Homo sapiens: one gene and its partners. The protein of the gene in region 3 interacts with the protein of the main gene of each other region in a pairwise test. Each region holds a gene or a part of one and is shown on either strand. Other genes may lie near its edges.

Region 1 (7,316 bases), on a different chromosome or scaffold from region 3:
AAGCTTTTCTCAGAATCCCCTCATATTTTTTAATAACCTTATTGGGGTATTAATTCCTACTAAACAACCTGCCCACTAGGATTCCCTCCAATGACACAGTATCAAAAGAGCAAGGCAAGGCCTGGTGTGGTGGCTCATGCCTGTAATCCCCACACTTTTGGGAGGTCGAGGCAGGTGGATCACTTGAGGCCGGGAGTTTGAGACCAGCCTGGCCAACATGGTGAGACCCTGTCTCTACTAAAAATACAAAAATTAGCCGGGCGTGGTGGTGCATGCCTGTAATCCCAGCTACTTGGGAGGCTGAGGCACAAGAATCTCTTGAACCCAGGAGGTGGAGGTTGCAGTGGAGCTGAGATCATGCCACTGTACTCTAGCCTGGGCAACAGAGCGAGATTCCATCTCAGTCATTCTCCCACGACTGTTGAGAATTCCATGATAAGAACGTAACATCCCATGATGGTAAATGTAAAAAGTCTTACAATTAACAAAAAACAATGCAGATGTAAGCAGTTATTTTTGTGGTTGTTCAAGAACCACGGACTTCTCTCAGGCCTCACCACCTGTGAGCTCGGAAGCTTTGCCCCATTTCCTCACTGGTGTTCCTTGGCCCCTTCCCACTTTCTCTTCTGTGTTTCATTTTTTCTGCCAAGAAGCCCTAACTTGGCATCGGAGGCCTCCGATCATATTCCCTGCACTTGGGCCCTGTCGCCCCTCATGCACTTGGACCTGTTGCCCTGCCCCTGTGCCCTTCCTCCCTCCTACTCCCTGCCTCATCCTGAGAGCTGCCCTTCCTTCCATCACAGCCTCCCCGCGGCCCTCTGCTTTCCTCCTTGGCCACTGTCTTTCTGAGCCTCTCCTGGGAGTTCTTTATTTGGTCTTTTGACCTTCCCTGTGAACCATAAGTCTGATTTTTCTCAACAGCTGAACTGTAAGCTCCTTGAGTGTAGGCTCAGTGTTTGCATCCCTTACTGTTTGCCAGGCCATACAATAGGTACTGAATAAAGTCATTTGCAAGGGTACATTTACCAAAGGTACTTAATAAAGAGAGGGGGACGGAGAAATAAAGAGGGGGAGGGCTGCCTTTCTCTTTGGATACTGTGTCATTGGAGGGAATCCTAGTCGGCAGATTCCTTAGTAGGAATTGAAACCCCAATGAGGTTACTAAAAAATATGAGGGGATTCTGAGAAGAGCTTGGACCAAAATCTTGATTTTCTTTAGCTTCTTCATTATTATTATTATTATTATTATTATTAAATGTTACTGGCCATTTTCATAACAGGAAAATGTTTGAGTAATTCAACTAATTCAGTGTTTTTACTTCCCAAACTAGTTTGAGAGATTTGAAGCTGTTTTGACTTTCCTCTGTTTAGAAAACCTGATGTCTTATATCCAGCTGCTCTTAAGAAAGAGTCTTTCTGGAGCAGACAGCGAGGGGAGCTGCACTCAGCCACTGGAATGCAGGTGACAGCTGATGGGCACAGGACCTCAGGTGCAGCCTTAAGTATGTTCTGTTCCATTTGCAGAAAGTTCAGAAAGCCTCAGCCTTTCCTCAGAAAACCTGGAAGATGCAATGCCCTGGCTGATTTGGACTTGTATGCCTTACCTGTGAGCAAGTCATCTCCTGGGAACACCTCTAATTTTTAAGATTCCAATGATGCCACCACCTGACATGTTTTTAACCACACAGTCCCAGGATCCAGGCCATGGGATGCTTGCTAATGGGGCCTTGGGGAGCTGAATTTAGAGGCTGAGTATCCTCTGATGGGGTCAGGGAGGAAAGGATTTGGTTGCACCTCCAGCTTGCACAGGGCTCCCGACCAGCCCGGCCCAGCCTCCTCTGTACTATGCTCTAGCTTATGAGGCCTCCTGGTTCCACCCACCACCTGGCAGGGCCAACCTCTTTGTTCTCCTTGCCTCGTGGGGATAAGGAGAACCTCACTAAGTCATCCAGTTCGAGGAGACCCAGATGTGGAGTCAGCCCCCATTCTACTCTGCCACCCCACCCTCCCCACCTGGGGGAGTGACAATCTCTGGGACCTGAACTCGGTGACTCCACCTAACCCCAAACTTCAAGAACATCGGTGGCTGAGAGCCCAGGATCTCCTTCCCACAAAGCCACATGTTCTACTAGCCAGACTTGGGGTCTGAGGTTTGAGAGACAGTCGCTCTGCCCTCTCAGGTCACCACTCCAACTTTCCTCCAGCCGTCCCTTTTTCCTACCCACGGCCCTGTGCTTATTCAGGCCCAAAGCCAGGGAGACCACAGGTCAGGATCTCACAAGTATTGCAATCCTAGTGCATTCTTGTCCTATGTAAAATTTTCGATCTTTTCCTAAAACCGATTTATTTTCCGTTTTATTATCCTGAAATGTAATTGGTCTTCTCCTCTTTCAAGTATAGCTATTCACTAGCCCATACTTATAAACTTGTACCCTTCAGAAAGGATTTCTTGTTCTCTTTCTTGTATTTTCTCATTTTACCTTGAAAGTGCAGCCTTATCTTCTGTATTCCCACAGGCAGTGCTGAGAACACCCAATAAGGTGCACCCAACAGAAACATTTTATGCTGTTTGTCAGTTGCTTGTTTGGGGAGAAGGGGCCACAGATGGGTAAATTTTCTTGGCTTTTCTTGCTTAACTACACGTAACTTTCTAGGGTGGGTTTTCATTATAACATGAATCTCTGCAAACATTTTTAGGCACCAGCCAGCAAAGATACATACACTGTCTTCTCTTCTCCCTTTTGCACAGTGATCTTGGTGGCACCCACTTTGGGGAGGGTTGGATTTATCACATTGTTATTCCAAAGAAACTTGACTTTCTCAATTGTTCCAACATCCAGCTTTGCATCAAACTCATAGGAATGGGTTGAGCCTGGTTTGAGAATCCCCCTTGAAATAGAGAAACATAAACATCCCTGTTCACGGAAATGAGTTCTAATTACCATACAATGCCAGGCTGCTGTTTTCTCTTCTAGATTAACAGGATTATTTTTCCGAATTAATTTCCAAATAAAGGATGGAGAAATGGAAAAGCCAGCTATATGCTAGCACCTCAAACTATGGTTTTTAAAACTCAAGTTAATTTTTCCTTAAAGCTTTCTAATAGAAAATAAAATAGAATTCCTGCATATCATTTTATATGTTTTGGAAGAATTATTTGTACAGTAACAAATTGGCCACATAGTATGGCACAATAAGCATGTGTTATTGCACTAATCAGAAAACAGCATATCTGAAGTAATATTAGATTTATGTTTAAAAAAACATCTATTAAGAGAAAGAGGCCGGGCATGGTGGCTCACGTCTGTAATCCCAGCACTTTGAGAGGCCGAGATGGGTGGATCACTTGAGGTCAGAAGTTCGAGACCAGCCTGGCCAACATGGCAAAACGCCCCCCATCTCTACTAAAAATACAAAAATCAGCCAGGTGTGGTGGCACATGCCTGTAATCTCAGCTACTTGGGAGGCTGAGGCACGAGAATTTCTTGAACCCGGGAGGCGGAGGTTGCAATGAGCCAAGATCGTGCCACTGCACTCCAGCCTGGGTGACAGAGCAAAGACTCTTTCTCAAAAAAAAAAAAAAAAAAAAAAAAGAGAGAGAAAGGACGAAATGCCTAGGTTTATAACAGAAAAGAAAAATTATTAGCAGAAGTCTGCAATTAACATCAGTACATAAAGTTATATAGTCCTGCGTTGCTTAACAATGGAGATATGTTCTGAGAAATGTGTCCTTAGGTAATTTAATCATTGTGTGGACATCATAGCATGTACTCACACAAACGTAGATGGCACAGCCTACTACATACCTAGGCTGTATGGTACAGCCTATTGCTCCTAGGTTACAAACCTGTACTACATGTTACTGTATTGAGTTCTGTAGACAACTGGAACACAATGGTAAGTATTTGTGTATCTAAACACCCAAACATAGAAAAAGTACAGTAAAAATATGGTATTACAAGCTTATAAAGCAACTGTTGTGTATGTGGTCCATCAACTAAAATGTTGTTACATGTTGCATGACTATAATTAAAAACCAGTGACATATAAAGAGATGATAAGTGTTCAAATTAAGTGTGTGGTTTGAAGGCTGTGTATATCATCAAATGAGACGTAGTGTTAAAATAGGAAATTACCTGAAGATACTGTACTGGTGAGTGTTTCCCTTATTTCCAAACAAAGCAACTTTGATCTGACCAGTGGCTGTTCTTCCAGACAGTGTGATGGAAACCCCATATCTCCAGCCTGCACAGGAGATGGAAGAGTTCAATTTATTCACACACAAAATAAGTAGCCTACATCCCAGACTTGTCTCCTTCTCTTACTCTGAGGCAACAAAGCATAAGAAATTCTTTTCTAAAAAATTATTATTATTATTTTTTGAGATGGGGTCTCACTCTGTCACCCAGGCTGGAGTGTAGTGGTGCAATCTTGGCTCACTGCCACCTCTGCCTCCCAGGTTCAAGTAATTCTTCTGCCTCAACCTCCCTAGTAGCTGGGACTACAGGCACACACCATCACGCCTGGCTAATTTTTGTATTTTTAGTAGAGACAGAGTTTCGCCATGTTGGTCAAGCTGGTCTCCAACTCCTGACCTCAAGTGATCCGCCCGTGTCCGCCTCCCAAAGTGATGGGAATACAGGCGTGAGCCACCACACCCAGCCAAAGTATAAGAAATTCTATTTGTTAATCTACAAATCAAACAAGGCCTTATGGAGAAGTATGTATTTAGCAGTATCCCCCTCTAGAACTGCATTGCCCAGGGAGGAGGTCACCAGCCACATGTGGCTGCTTACATTTAAATCCAAATTAAATACAATTAAAAATTTAGTTTCTCAAACTCATTCGCTGTGTTGCAAATGTTAAGTTGCCACATGAGGCTAATGGCTACACAGAATATGCCCCTCATTGCAGAAAGTTCTGTTAGCCAGCTCTGCCCCAGAATGGCAGTACAGTAAGGTAAGGTGAAGAGAGAGGGAATAGGGGCTTGTCTCCACATTTGGGAAGGTAGCTCGGGAGTGCAGCCTGGCAAGCACCTCGAGGGCGGGGACTGTGTTTCCTCTCTGCTCCCCAGGGCCCTGGGCAGTCTCTAGCACAGAGCAGGTGCACGAGCAGCTGTCACTTAGGCTTCTACCTGAAATGCTGTCCCAGGGCCTGCATGCACACGCACACAAATACAAATACATATACACAAACATATGCATGTGCGTGCACACACACAAATACATATACACAAACATATGCATGTGCACACACAATACATATACACAAACATGCATGTGCGTGCACATACACAAATACATATACACAACATGTGCATGTGCACACACACATACATCTACACAAACATGCATGTGTATGTGCACACACACACAAACCTACACACATTTAACCACGCACATACATAGACACCCACATACAAATATACATACACATGCACATACATATACATAAACATACAGACTCATATACATACGTATATAAACACATGCATACACACAAAGGTACATACACAAACACACTCACACATGCATTCATACACCCACACATGTGCACAGATGTACATTAATATACACAGACATGATTCTTGCCTAACTCCTATTCATCTTTCGTGTCTTCAGAGACCTTGACCCTGACCCTCCTTCTGGTCAGGGCCAGGTTCTCTGTCCCATAATGTCATGGCAACAGCCACCAAGCCCAACACGCTTGTAGTTGCTTGCCCAGTTTCTGTCTTTGGCTGGATTATTAATTTCATGAGAGGAGTCTCTTGTTCGTCCCTGCATCCTCAGTGTCTAGCATAGTCTGTGGCCCATAAATAAATGTTGATTGAGGAATGAATACCTGGTTTTTGAGTGTTTAATTTGTTGTTGAAATATTGGCAAGTATTTCATGCATCACAACATCAGTGGAAGGATTGATTAATCAATGTCTTCTTACAAAAAAAATACACAGAGTGGGCCGGGTGCGGTGGCTCACGCCTGTAATCCCGGCACTTTGGGAGGCCGAGGCAGGCGGATCACAAGGTCAGGAGATCGAGACCATCCTGGCTAACATGGTGAAACCCCGTCTCTACTAAAAATGTAAAAAAAAAATTAGCCTGGCATGGTGGCGGGCGCCTGTAGTCCCAGCTACTCGGGAGGCTGAGGCAGGAGAATGGCGTGAACCCGGGAGGGGGAGGTTGTAGTGAGCCAAGATTGCGCCTCTGCACTCCAGCCTGGGCGACACAGCGAGACTCCGTCTCAAAAAAAAAAAAAAAAATTACAGAGTGATATATATGGTGATAGAAGTGTTCTGTATCTTGATTTGGAGGTGTTTACACAACTATTCATTTGTCCAAACTCATACAAGTGTATGCTAAACAGCGTGCATTTTGCCAAATATAAATTATACCTCAATAAATCTGACTTTAAAAACTATGTAAGATGTGTTATACATTTATATGAATATGTAACCTCTGTCTTTACTGGGTCACCTCCTATGGAAGTGTCATGGGGCAGGTTGGTACAAAGTGGCCCAAACATGCCCAGTCTCTACCCTGTGTCTTAGTCCATTCAGCAGGTTTTGGAGAGAAATCATCCTTCCCCCTGATTCCTGCCTGCACTCCACCAGCGAGGCAGCCCCTGGGCATCAGGGATGCACAGACAGAGGGGAAAGCAGAGAATGGAGTTGGGCTTCTTAAGGGACATAGCCCAGCAAAGAGCTGGTACCAATTACGTCTTTGCTGAATGAAGAGAACAGGTGTGTCTGATGCGGCCTTAAAAAGGAAAGAAACAATGAACTGTGGAGTGGTAAAAATTCAGGGTAGCTGGTCACAAGGATGTGCAAACTGGCCTCATCCCATTAATTATACTAGTTGCTTGCTCTCATTTCATGCCGCAGAAATAGAACGGAAGAAATGCACACTCTGTCTAAATCCTCAGTTTACTTGTAACTGCAATAGTTTCGGTAAATGTGTCCATTTCTAAGATAATTAAAATGTACCCACAAATATTTCAGGTTGAAAGCAAGCCCCTCATTTGTAACAGAAACTATATACTTTCTTTACATGGGCAGGTAGTCAAAGTGCAACTTACGAGCGAAATTGCTAGCCTCTCCTGTGTTCAAGAAGAATTTCTGCTGCTCTTCACTTGTCCTGCCAGCAAATTTATCAGCATAGTGACCCATCTGTGGGCATCCTTGATCTGGACACGGGAAGCACTTGTCCTAATGAGAAGAGATAGATGGGACTGTAAGGAGAATTTGTGTTTGTATGATCGATACATCTGAGAGGGCAGACACTCAATTTTCCTACAGCCTAAGCGTTCTCCTTTGTGACA
Region 2 (5,975 bases), on a different chromosome or scaffold from region 3:
AGCACTTCTAGGGAGAGGAGCAAACTCAAGTCTTTTATTGTGGGAAAGGGGGAAACACAGTGTTCCCCTGGCTCAGAAGGGAAAGGAGGGCCACGGGTGACACCTTGGGAAGCTTTCTTTTCTTCATAGAATGACTAACAGGAAATTATGAGGGGTACCCTCATTTTCTTTTTTTCTTTACTTTCTTTTTTTTTTTTTTTTTTTTTTTTTTTTGAGACGGAGTCTTGCTCTGTCACCTAGGCTGGAGTGCAGTGGCACGATGTCAGCTCACTGCAACCTCCGCCTCCCCGGTTCAAAAGATTCTCATGCCTCAGTCTCCCGAGTAGCTGGGATTACAGGCACGTGCCACAACACCTGGCTAATTTTTGTATTTTTAGTAGAGACGGGGTTTTACCATGTTGGCTAGGCTGGTCTGGAACTCCTGATCTCAAGTGATCCACCTACCTTGGCCTCCCAAAGTGCAGGGATTACAGGTGTGAGCCACTGCACCCCACCAGGGTACCCTCATTTTCTATGACCTCCAGAAATCGAGGGATTCAGTTTGTGAATCCTTCCTTCCTCTCCTAGTTCCTTGTGCAATGCAAAGCCTCTTTAGTGTTCACCTGCAGAGTCGTGCCCAGGCTGTAGGAGACTCTGGGTTTGGAGAATCATGGCACCCTCATCCTGTCATTTTCATCAGTTGTGTCTTCAATCCTTTCTTCACCCCTCCACACTCAAACCTCTCTCCTTCTAGAAGCAGATTTTTCCTTTTCCTTCCTCTTCTCCTCCCTTACTCCCCTACTTTTCCCAGTCCCCCAAACATACCAGGCTCAGAGCTGGATTCATTCAGCATTTATTGTAGCAAAGAGTGGGTAGGGACAGGAGCTCTAGGACTGGCCAGTGGGTGTTCTAGAGGCCAGCTGGGGTTGGAAGACAATGGTCTGGACACTTCACTGGGTGGCAGGCTGTGTTCCAAGTTCCACGAAATAGCTCAAGAAGTTAACCAGTTCCGTTCCAGCCTTCTTGATCAGGGGTGTCAGCTGCTCCTTTGACTTTTCAAAGTAAGACCTGGATAGGTGAGGGGATTAGAGTTTAATCTGAGGGACCCTAGGCACTGGCAGGGGCCTTGGTGGTGGTGGGAGGTCAGAGCAGACTGACTCAGGTCCCCAAACTCTAGTGCCTGGTCCATCGCATGGCAAAGCCCCTAGGTAGGAATAGAGTCAAGACCTTTGCTAGGTAGAGGGACAGACTCTAGAGACTGAAATTCAAGGCCCAGTTCTTGCTGTTCCTCTCTATCTAAGAGACGTGTGGGATCTTTGGGTGATGAAATACTTTTTCTCTGCAATTTAAGCCTAATCTGCCCTAATCCCCACCCCTGGGTTCAGACTTCTGTGGGACCTCTCATCTTCCCTTCTTTCTCTCCACAGTTCCACAGCCCCTGAACCCCTTGCCCTGAGACTTACTTGGCCTCGGCCTGAAGCTCTGGGCTCTTGACCTTCTCCATCAGGTCCTTGCCATAGTCAGTCACGGTCTGGAAGTACTGAGAAACCAGGCTCTCCACACATGGCTCCTTTGCCTGTCTCCGAACCAAAGCTCCTGCCCACACACACACACACACACACACACACACACACACACACTCTTTTCAGCTGGGTCCACAGCAGTGAATCCTGGCCTCCTGCCATACCTCTGCCAGTACCCACCCCAGCTCTCTGCCCCCTCCCCAAAAAGGTATCCAGCCAGATCTTTGGATGGGCTTTCTGGGCTTTAGAGAGGGAATGATCTTCCTTTTGAGCCCTTTGGTTGCCAGACCTGGATATAAGAGCACAGGCAGATAGGTAGCTATAACCACCAGCACATTCTCCCTTTTGGCCCCCTCTCCATATCACACCCACCTTCAAGGCTGCAGATGGTGAGGAGTAGCACAGTTGCTGCGAGCAGCTTCATGTTGGTAACAGTGGGGAGGGCGGCCTAGGAAGAGGGTGGTGGGGGTTTGGGGGACACTGAAGCCAAATGGGCTTCAGCTCCTCCCCAGGGATCTCCCTACCTGCTGCCCATTCCAACCTGGCTCTCTCCCTCTCCACAACTGAAGCCCAGGCCTCTTTGGATGCTGCTCACACATCTTGCCTCCTTATCTTACCTAGCCAGCGTCTCTGTCCTTGGTGTCTGTGCCTGCCCTGGCTGGAGAGGAAGGGGCTATATACCTGTCTGTTTACCCACCCCCTGTCAGGTGACAGGGACTATGGATGGGCCCAGTGGGGCAGGGATTATGTGAGGATAAACAAGTTGGAGAAATGGGGGAGGAGAGGACAAGCACATGGAAGACTCATGGTGATGGGGTGAGAGGCAGGGGGTACAGCTCTTAGTGGAGGCTAAGGGGGTACACTTCAGGTATATTTGAGGTTCATTCTTTTGAGATCTGAGGTCCTTGGACTTGAGTGCAACAGGAAGCAGGATTCCAAGTTATTTCTCTGGAAAGCTCTGACATATCAACCCATGGAATACCATCAACCCATCATACCATGGAAAGCTCATGGTGTCTTTATTCCATTATGGGTAGATCTCATCTCTCAACCTTATCCCACTTTACTGCAACTTGGCAGAGAGATATTGGGGAGCAGAAGAAAGGAGAAAGGAATTGAAATCAGGGACAGGGTTGAGGGCTATGGGGGTTAGGGGAATGAGGGTCGGGTAAGAGGGCAAGTGTAAATGATCTTGTCCGTTTTTGAGTTAATGTGTAATGAGACGGGGAGAAAACAGGAGAGCCCAGAATGACCTGGATGCTGATCACTGAACATACCCTACCCCCAGTAAAACAAATTCAGAAAACAGCTTCCGCCCGTCCCCTCCCAATGGAGGGCTCTGGCAGGAAAAGAGGTGAATAAGAGGCTTCTACCAGGGTAAAGGTTGAAGGCACCTGGTCATTTGATCACCTTATCAGTTCTAGGCAGTGATTAGCCAATATTGAGTCAGCAGGGGCAATAGCCCTGGCCCTTGTCTCACTCCTGTTGGGGGTGGGGGAGGGGGAGAGGTACATTCCCAGGTTCAAAGCATTTGGGTGAAATCAGTTAAATAGATATCAGAAGCTTTTGTATCTTTCACCCTTTTGCCCCCCAAGCATACTCGCTGAGTATGTGGAACATTCCTGAGGGTGACAGTGGAGGCGCAAAGCTGATGAGGGAGGTAGTGACCAGAGACCAAGAAATCTTTGTTTTTTAACTTTTGTTTTAAATTCAGAAGTATATGTGCAGGTTTTTTTGTTTGTTTTCCTGAGACGGAGTTTTGCTCTTGTTGCTCAGGCTGGAGCGTAATGGCATGATCTCGGCTCACTGCAACCTCCACCTCCCGGGTTCAAGGATTCTCCTGCCTCAGCATCCCAAGTAGCTGGGATTACAGACATGCGCCACCACGCCCGGGTAATTTTGTACTTTTAGTAGAGACGGGGTTTCCCCATGTTGGTCAGGCTGGTCTTGAACTCCCGACCTCAGGTGATCTGCCCGCCTCGGCCTCCCAAAGTGCTAGGATTACAGGCATCAGCCACCGCCCCTGGCCTATATATGCAAGTTTGTTACACACGTAAACTTGTGTCATGGGGATTTGTTGTACAGATTATTTCATCACCCAGGTATTAAGCCTAATATCCATTAGTTATTTTTCCTGATCTTCTCCCTCCTCCCACCCTTCACCCTCCAAGACCAAGAACTCTTACTCCATTTTCAATTATTCCCCTGTGGAGCGCTTAGTGCTTGAGGTCAGCCCTTTGGCTTGTCCCTGGTCCTGGGATGGAGTGCCTTTGGGGGCCAGGCTCCATATTCCTAGATTTTATTTGCCAACTCTGCCTTGGGACTCAGGGAAGGAAGGGTTAAATACAGAAAGCAGCTGTTTCAGCGAATAGTTCTGCTAGAACTTACTCCTCTGCGCCAAACTCTCACACCCGTTTCCATTCCACCAAGTGGTCAAGAGCGGGGACTTCGAGAGATGTAGACCTCCAGAAGAGAAGGGTGGGTCCCTGTTCTAGGGAGTGCTGCGCTTAATGAGTAGTACTCATTTGGAGGTGTGCTGTGGAGGGCTGTGAGGAGGATTTCCCATGGGTTCTTTGGAGAGAAGGGAGCGATAGAAATGAACCAGGGTTCCAAAGAAGTCTTCATAATCGTTCTTTCTGCCACCCTTCACACTATGCCAGTCTACAAGCTGTAGTTCCACTTTTCTCATGGATGAAACTACATGGGTGGAAGGAGCTTCAGTGGCCCAAGCTACAAGATGCTCCCTCTAGTGTCTTGTACGCTCACAAGTTTTTTTCCGACCTTGGAGAGGCCTAGTGATCTAAAGCCTTCCACTTAAGTCTAAGGGGCCACCAATCAAGTCCTGCCCGCCTCTGCAGCTCCAGGGTTGAAGCTCTTGGGCCGTCAGACCTGCCACTCATTTTCTTCCTCCCTTCCCATTGGCCCATGGTAAATAGCGAGGCTTTTTTTTTTTTTTTTTTTTTTCATTGATTGGGCGGGGCCCAATCAGGGTTGGGTTGGGTCTTTGACAGCTTTCTTTGCCAGATTCAAAGATGGCGCTTACGGCCACGCTAAGAATGCAGCGTGAAGCTGCAGTTCTGCCATCACTCAAGATGGCTGCCCCCATCAAGATGACCGGGGTGTGCCGGGGGGAAAGGGGCAGCATGATGGTCTGAGATGGTAAGGGATACTGCACCATTGCGGGCCTGGTCTTGGGGCCTGGGAATGAAGAATAGAGAGGCTAGGGAGCTAGGTGAAGTCTGTGGTGGGGGCTAGGATCAGAGAAAGGGAGAGAGGACAAGGGTGACAAGTGGGGGTGAGAGATCAAAGATGGGGCGGGAGTGTGCCTAGGGTTGTCTCTCCATGAGTGCTCTCCTTCCCTACTCTTCCTGTTCCAGGTGTAGCGTCGGACCATGTGGAAGTTTCTGAGGCTGGGGAGCCGGATAATGGGGGGTGGGGCCCGTTGGGGGGTAAAGGGGCAATAGCGTCCTTTCACAGGCTAACCTCGGCTCTTCCCAGTCCTCTGGACTAAAATGGGGAACACATTGGGCCTGGCACCAATGGGGACTTTGCCCCGCCGGAGCCCCCGCCGAGAGGAACCCCTGCCCAACCCTGGGAGCTTCGATGAGCTGCACCGTCTATGCAAAGGTGAGAACTTGGCACTTGGGTGTCTCAGGATGAAGGGGCAGAGGAGTGGAGGGTCTTGAATGCCGGATGTCCGGCGATGGGAGCAGGAAAGGGGAGATCATAGCTGGGTCATGCAGCCTCAGGGAGGATCAGGTGCCCAAATGAAGTGGAGCATTTCATTGCAGGACTTGAAAGGAGGTTAATTCCTCCAAAGTGTTCCCTATGGGATTGAAAGGGGAGACTATCTTTTGGGGTAGGGGTTCTTTGTCTGTGCTTATTCCTTCCCTTCCCCTACCCCCTTCAGATGTATTCCCAGCACAGATGGAGGGAGTGAAGCTCGTTGTCAACAAGGTTCTGAGCAGCCATTTCCAGGTGCTCCCACTTCTCTGGCCCCTCCTTACTATTCCCCCTTTCCTGTCCCTGGATCATCTTCTCCTTTCCTTTGTACTCCAGCCCTAGCCAGTCTATGTGGGACAAATGAGGGAGGATGTGGGGTTCTCTTTACCTCCGTGCCTGTGGGACTTGTTGCTTTTAATCCGATGACCTTCTCTGTATATGTTGGAATATTTAGGATTCTTGAGAGGCCCTCTGGATGGGGAAAAGACTAAGGGTGGGATGAGGGATTGAAGTGGAGCAGGAATGCGCTTTTCTCCACTGAATCCTCTTTTCCTCAGGTGGCGCACACTATACACATGAGTGCCCTGGGCTTGCCGGGATATCACCTCCATGCGGCCTATGCAGGGGATTGGCAGCTCAGTCCCACTGAGGTGAGGGCTCCACACACCTGGGTCATCTCCCTAAAAACCAATCTGGGACCCAGGTCTGGAGGAAGAGGAATTGTGTGTGTTATGGGGAGGAATGGGCCGT
Region 3 (3,209 bases):
TGACCAAAGATGACCTGTCGTAAGCAACCTGGGTATCTTAAGATGCACTCCTTGGAGAGGGAATGTTCCTAAAAACATTTTCAGAGGGACGAACTGTATGAAATTCAGTAAAACATAAATCATGAGGAAAACTGATTACTCTCTTTTTGACATGAAATGAGAGTTTTAATGCATGGTTACGATTATTAACGTACTCCGCTGCAAGACGTTAATAAAGTTACTGTTTTGCAGGCTAGAATGTCTTGATGCTGTAATCAGAACACACTTTTTCCCCTTTCTTCCAGCTTCAAATGCAGATTCATAATTGGGCTGACTTCTAATAACTGCAATGTTTTCTGCCTTGGGCTTGCAGCAGAAGCCTGACAAAATAGTGTTTGTTTAGGCAATAATTTATTTATTTATTTATTGAGATGGAGTTTCATTCTTGTCGCCCAGGCTGGAGTGCAATGGCGTGATCTCGGCTCACTGCAACCTCTGTGTTCAGGCAATAATTTAGACTTTACCTTACTTGTGATTACTATAGCAATTACTATAGCCACAAGGCATAATTTTACTGTCTCATTTCAATTTTATGAATTTGAATGTTTTTACACTTTTCCTAATGAAGTCCACTATGAAGTTATGTCAAAAAAAAAAAAGAAAAAGAAAGATGCACACGTAAAAGAGAGGTGGTTGCAAGAGAAGAAAAGAACGGAGGAAAGTTAAACGCAAACCAGATAACTCTCAGCGTATTCTAAATGACCAAAAACAGAACTCTGTTGTCAAAGATTTTAAATGGAAAATTTTTCAATTTTTTTTTCTTTTTTGTACAGGTTTCTTCCTGAACGCGCCTCAGCGATTTTAAATCGTATGCAGAATATTCAATTTGAAGCAGTGGTTGGCCACAAAATCAAAATGAAATGAATAAATAAGCTCCAGCCAGAGATGTATGCATGATAATGATATGAATAGTTTCGAATCAATGCTGCAAAGCTTTATTTCACATTTTTTCAGTCCTGATAATATTAAAAACATTGGTTTGGCACTAGCAGCAGTCAAACGAACAAGATTAATTACCTGTCTTCCTGTTTCTCAAGAATATTTACGTAGTTTTTCATAGGTCTGTTTTTCCTTTCATGCCTCTTAAAAACTTCTGTGCTTACATAAACATACTTAAAAGGTTTTCTTTAAGATATTTTATTTTTCCATTTAAAGGTGGACAAAAGCTACCTCCCTAAAAGTAAATACAAAGAGAACTTATTTACACAGGGAAGGTTTAAGACTGTTCAAGTAGCATTCCAATCTGTAGCCATGCCACAGAATATCAACAAGAACACAGAATGAGTGCACAGCTAAGAGATCAAGTTTCAGCAGGCAGCTTTATCTCAACCTGGACATATTTTAAGATTCAGCATTTGAAAGATTTCCCTAGCCTCTTCCTTTTTCATTAGCCCAAAACGGTGCAACTCTATTCTGGACTTTATTACTTGATTCTGTCTTCTGTATAACTCTGAAGTCCACCAAAAGTGGACCCTCTATATTTCCTCCCTTTTTATAGTCTTATAAGATACATTATGAAAGGTGACCGACTCTATTTTAAATCTCAGAATTTTAAGTTCTAGCCCCATGATAACCTTTTTCTTTGTAATTTATGCTTTCATATATCCTTGGTCCCAGAGATGTTTAGACAATTTTAGGCTCAAAAATTAAAGCTAACACAGGAAAAGGAACTGTACTGGCTATTACATAAGAAACAATGGACCCAAGAGAAGAAAAGGAAGAAAGAAAGGTTTTTTGGTTTTTGTTTTGTTTTGTTTTGTTTTTTGTTTTTTTGAGATGGAGTCTCACTCTTTCGCCCAGGCTGGAGTGCAGTGGTATGATCTCAGCTCACTGCAAGCTCCACCTCCCGGGTTCACGCCATTCTCCTGCCTCAGCCTCCTGAGTAGCTGGGACTACAGGCGCCCGCCACCACACCCGGCTAATTTTTTGTATTTTTTGTAGAGACGGGGTTTCACCATGTTAGCCAAGATGGTCTCGATCTCCTGACCTCGTGATCCACCTGCCTCGGCCTCCCAAAGTGCTGGGATTACGGGTGTGAGCCACCGTGCCCAGCCTTTTTTTTTTTAATAGAAAAAATAATCCGACTCCCACTACATCAAGACTAATCTTGTTTTGTGTGTTTTTCACATGTATTATAGAATGCTTTTGCATGGACTATCCTCTTGTTTTTATTAAAAACAAATGATTTTTTTAAAAGTCACAAAAACAATTCACTAAAAATAAATATGTCATTGTGCTTTAAAAAAATAACCTCTTGTAGTTATAAAATAAAACGTTTGACTTCTAAACTCTGTCTCTATGAGTGTCCTTCAAGAACCAAGGATGTGGATGGTAACAGCTACATCTGGCAGTTATTAAATGAATCCAGGGGTTTTCTCAACTCTGGTTTCTTTGACAGCAGGAGTGCTGGTTTATCAACTGGAACTTACTGACCCCTTTCTATGTGTGAGATTAAGCACAGTGCTATTGTTTCTAATTTTTTTTCTTAGTCACCGGCAATAATTTTTTTCATAACATTCTTTTAATTTCTTGCCTTATAATCAAGAAATTTATGAGTAAAATGTATTATTTTTAAAGTATGGTTACAAAAATTCAAAAGAGAAACATGGAAAGTAAAAAATAGAAGCTTACCCCCAGCAATCCCATTTCCCAGAGGTCACACTGTCAATGCACAATCTTCCAGTCTTTTACTGATGCATGTTCATGACAAATACATTATATTCTTATTGCATGGGTCGTATCAGTAGTTTCATACCATACATTATGTTCTGTAACTTGCTCTTTTAGCTTACCAACTTATCACAAACAGCTGTTTGTTTCAGTATAGAGAATTCAACTTTTTTTCATGAGTACACAGTACTAAAATGGTACTCTAACCATTCCCTTTTGATAGGCACTTAGGATGTTTCCAGTATTTCTTAGTTCATCTATTTAAATATTAATTTAACAAATACTGAGTGCCCTCAAAGTTCTAGGCCCAGGGAAACATATATGAATAAGGCAAACTCCTTGTCTTAACAGAGCTCACATTCTAGTAGGTGGGACAAACAATAAAGGGACTGCAAATATGAGAGAGAGCATTTAAAGTAGTAGAGTCAGGGAAGAGCACGCTGAGAAAGAACATTTTGCGGACGAACTATTACCATACACAGGCAACTAAAAAATATTTT

Evidence for each region. The genes of interacting proteins can lie anywhere in the genome.
Region 1: the proteins of HSD17B13 (region 3) and PNLIPRP1 interact in binary tests that used the Homo sapiens proteins (3 or more experiments, as listed by UniProt).
Region 2: the proteins of HSD17B13 (region 3) and APOA2 interact in binary tests that used the Homo sapiens proteins (3 or more experiments, as listed by UniProt).

Annotation. Positions count from the first base shown.
Region 1 is NC_000010.11:116,600,959-116,608,274, reverse strand, and holds part of PNLIPRP1 (inactive pancreatic lipase-related protein 1 precursor), read right to left. Parts: intron 7,204-7,316; coding exon 7,074-7,203; intron 4,246-7,073; coding exon 4,137-4,245; intron 3,134-4,136; exon of another isoform or gene 2,890-3,133; coding exon 2,722-2,889; exon of another isoform or gene 1,372-2,721; intron 1-1,371. UniProt on the Homo sapiens protein: May function as inhibitor of dietary triglyceride digestion. Lacks detectable lipase activity towards triglycerides, diglycerides, phosphatidylcholine, galactolipids or cholesterol esters (in vitro).
Region 2 is NC_000001.11:161,221,476-161,227,450, forward strand, and holds APOA2 (apolipoprotein A-II preproprotein), read right to left. Parts: upstream 2,154-5,975; 5' UTR 2,120-2,153; intron 1,951-2,119; 5' UTR 1,927-1,950; coding exon 1,875-1,926; intron 1,576-1,874; coding exon 1,443-1,575; intron 1,048-1,442; coding exon 930-1,047; 3' UTR 817-929; downstream 1-816. Other genes in the region: TOMM40L (mitochondrial import receptor subunit TOM40B), read left to right, coding at 5,015-5,129, 5,413-5,480, 5,783-5,875. UniProt on the Homo sapiens protein: May stabilize HDL (high density lipoprotein) structure by its association with lipids, and affect the HDL metabolism.
Region 3 is NC_000004.12:87,302,912-87,306,120, reverse strand, and holds the end of HSD17B13 (17-beta-hydroxysteroid dehydrogenase 13 isoform A precursor), read left to right. Parts: intron 1-812; coding exon 813-903; 3' UTR 904-2,327; downstream 2,328-3,209. UniProt on the Homo sapiens protein: Plays a pivotal role in hepatic lipid metabolism. In vitro, it catalyzes the oxidation of a variety of lipid substrates, including 17beta-estradiol, retinol, retinal, and leukotriene B4.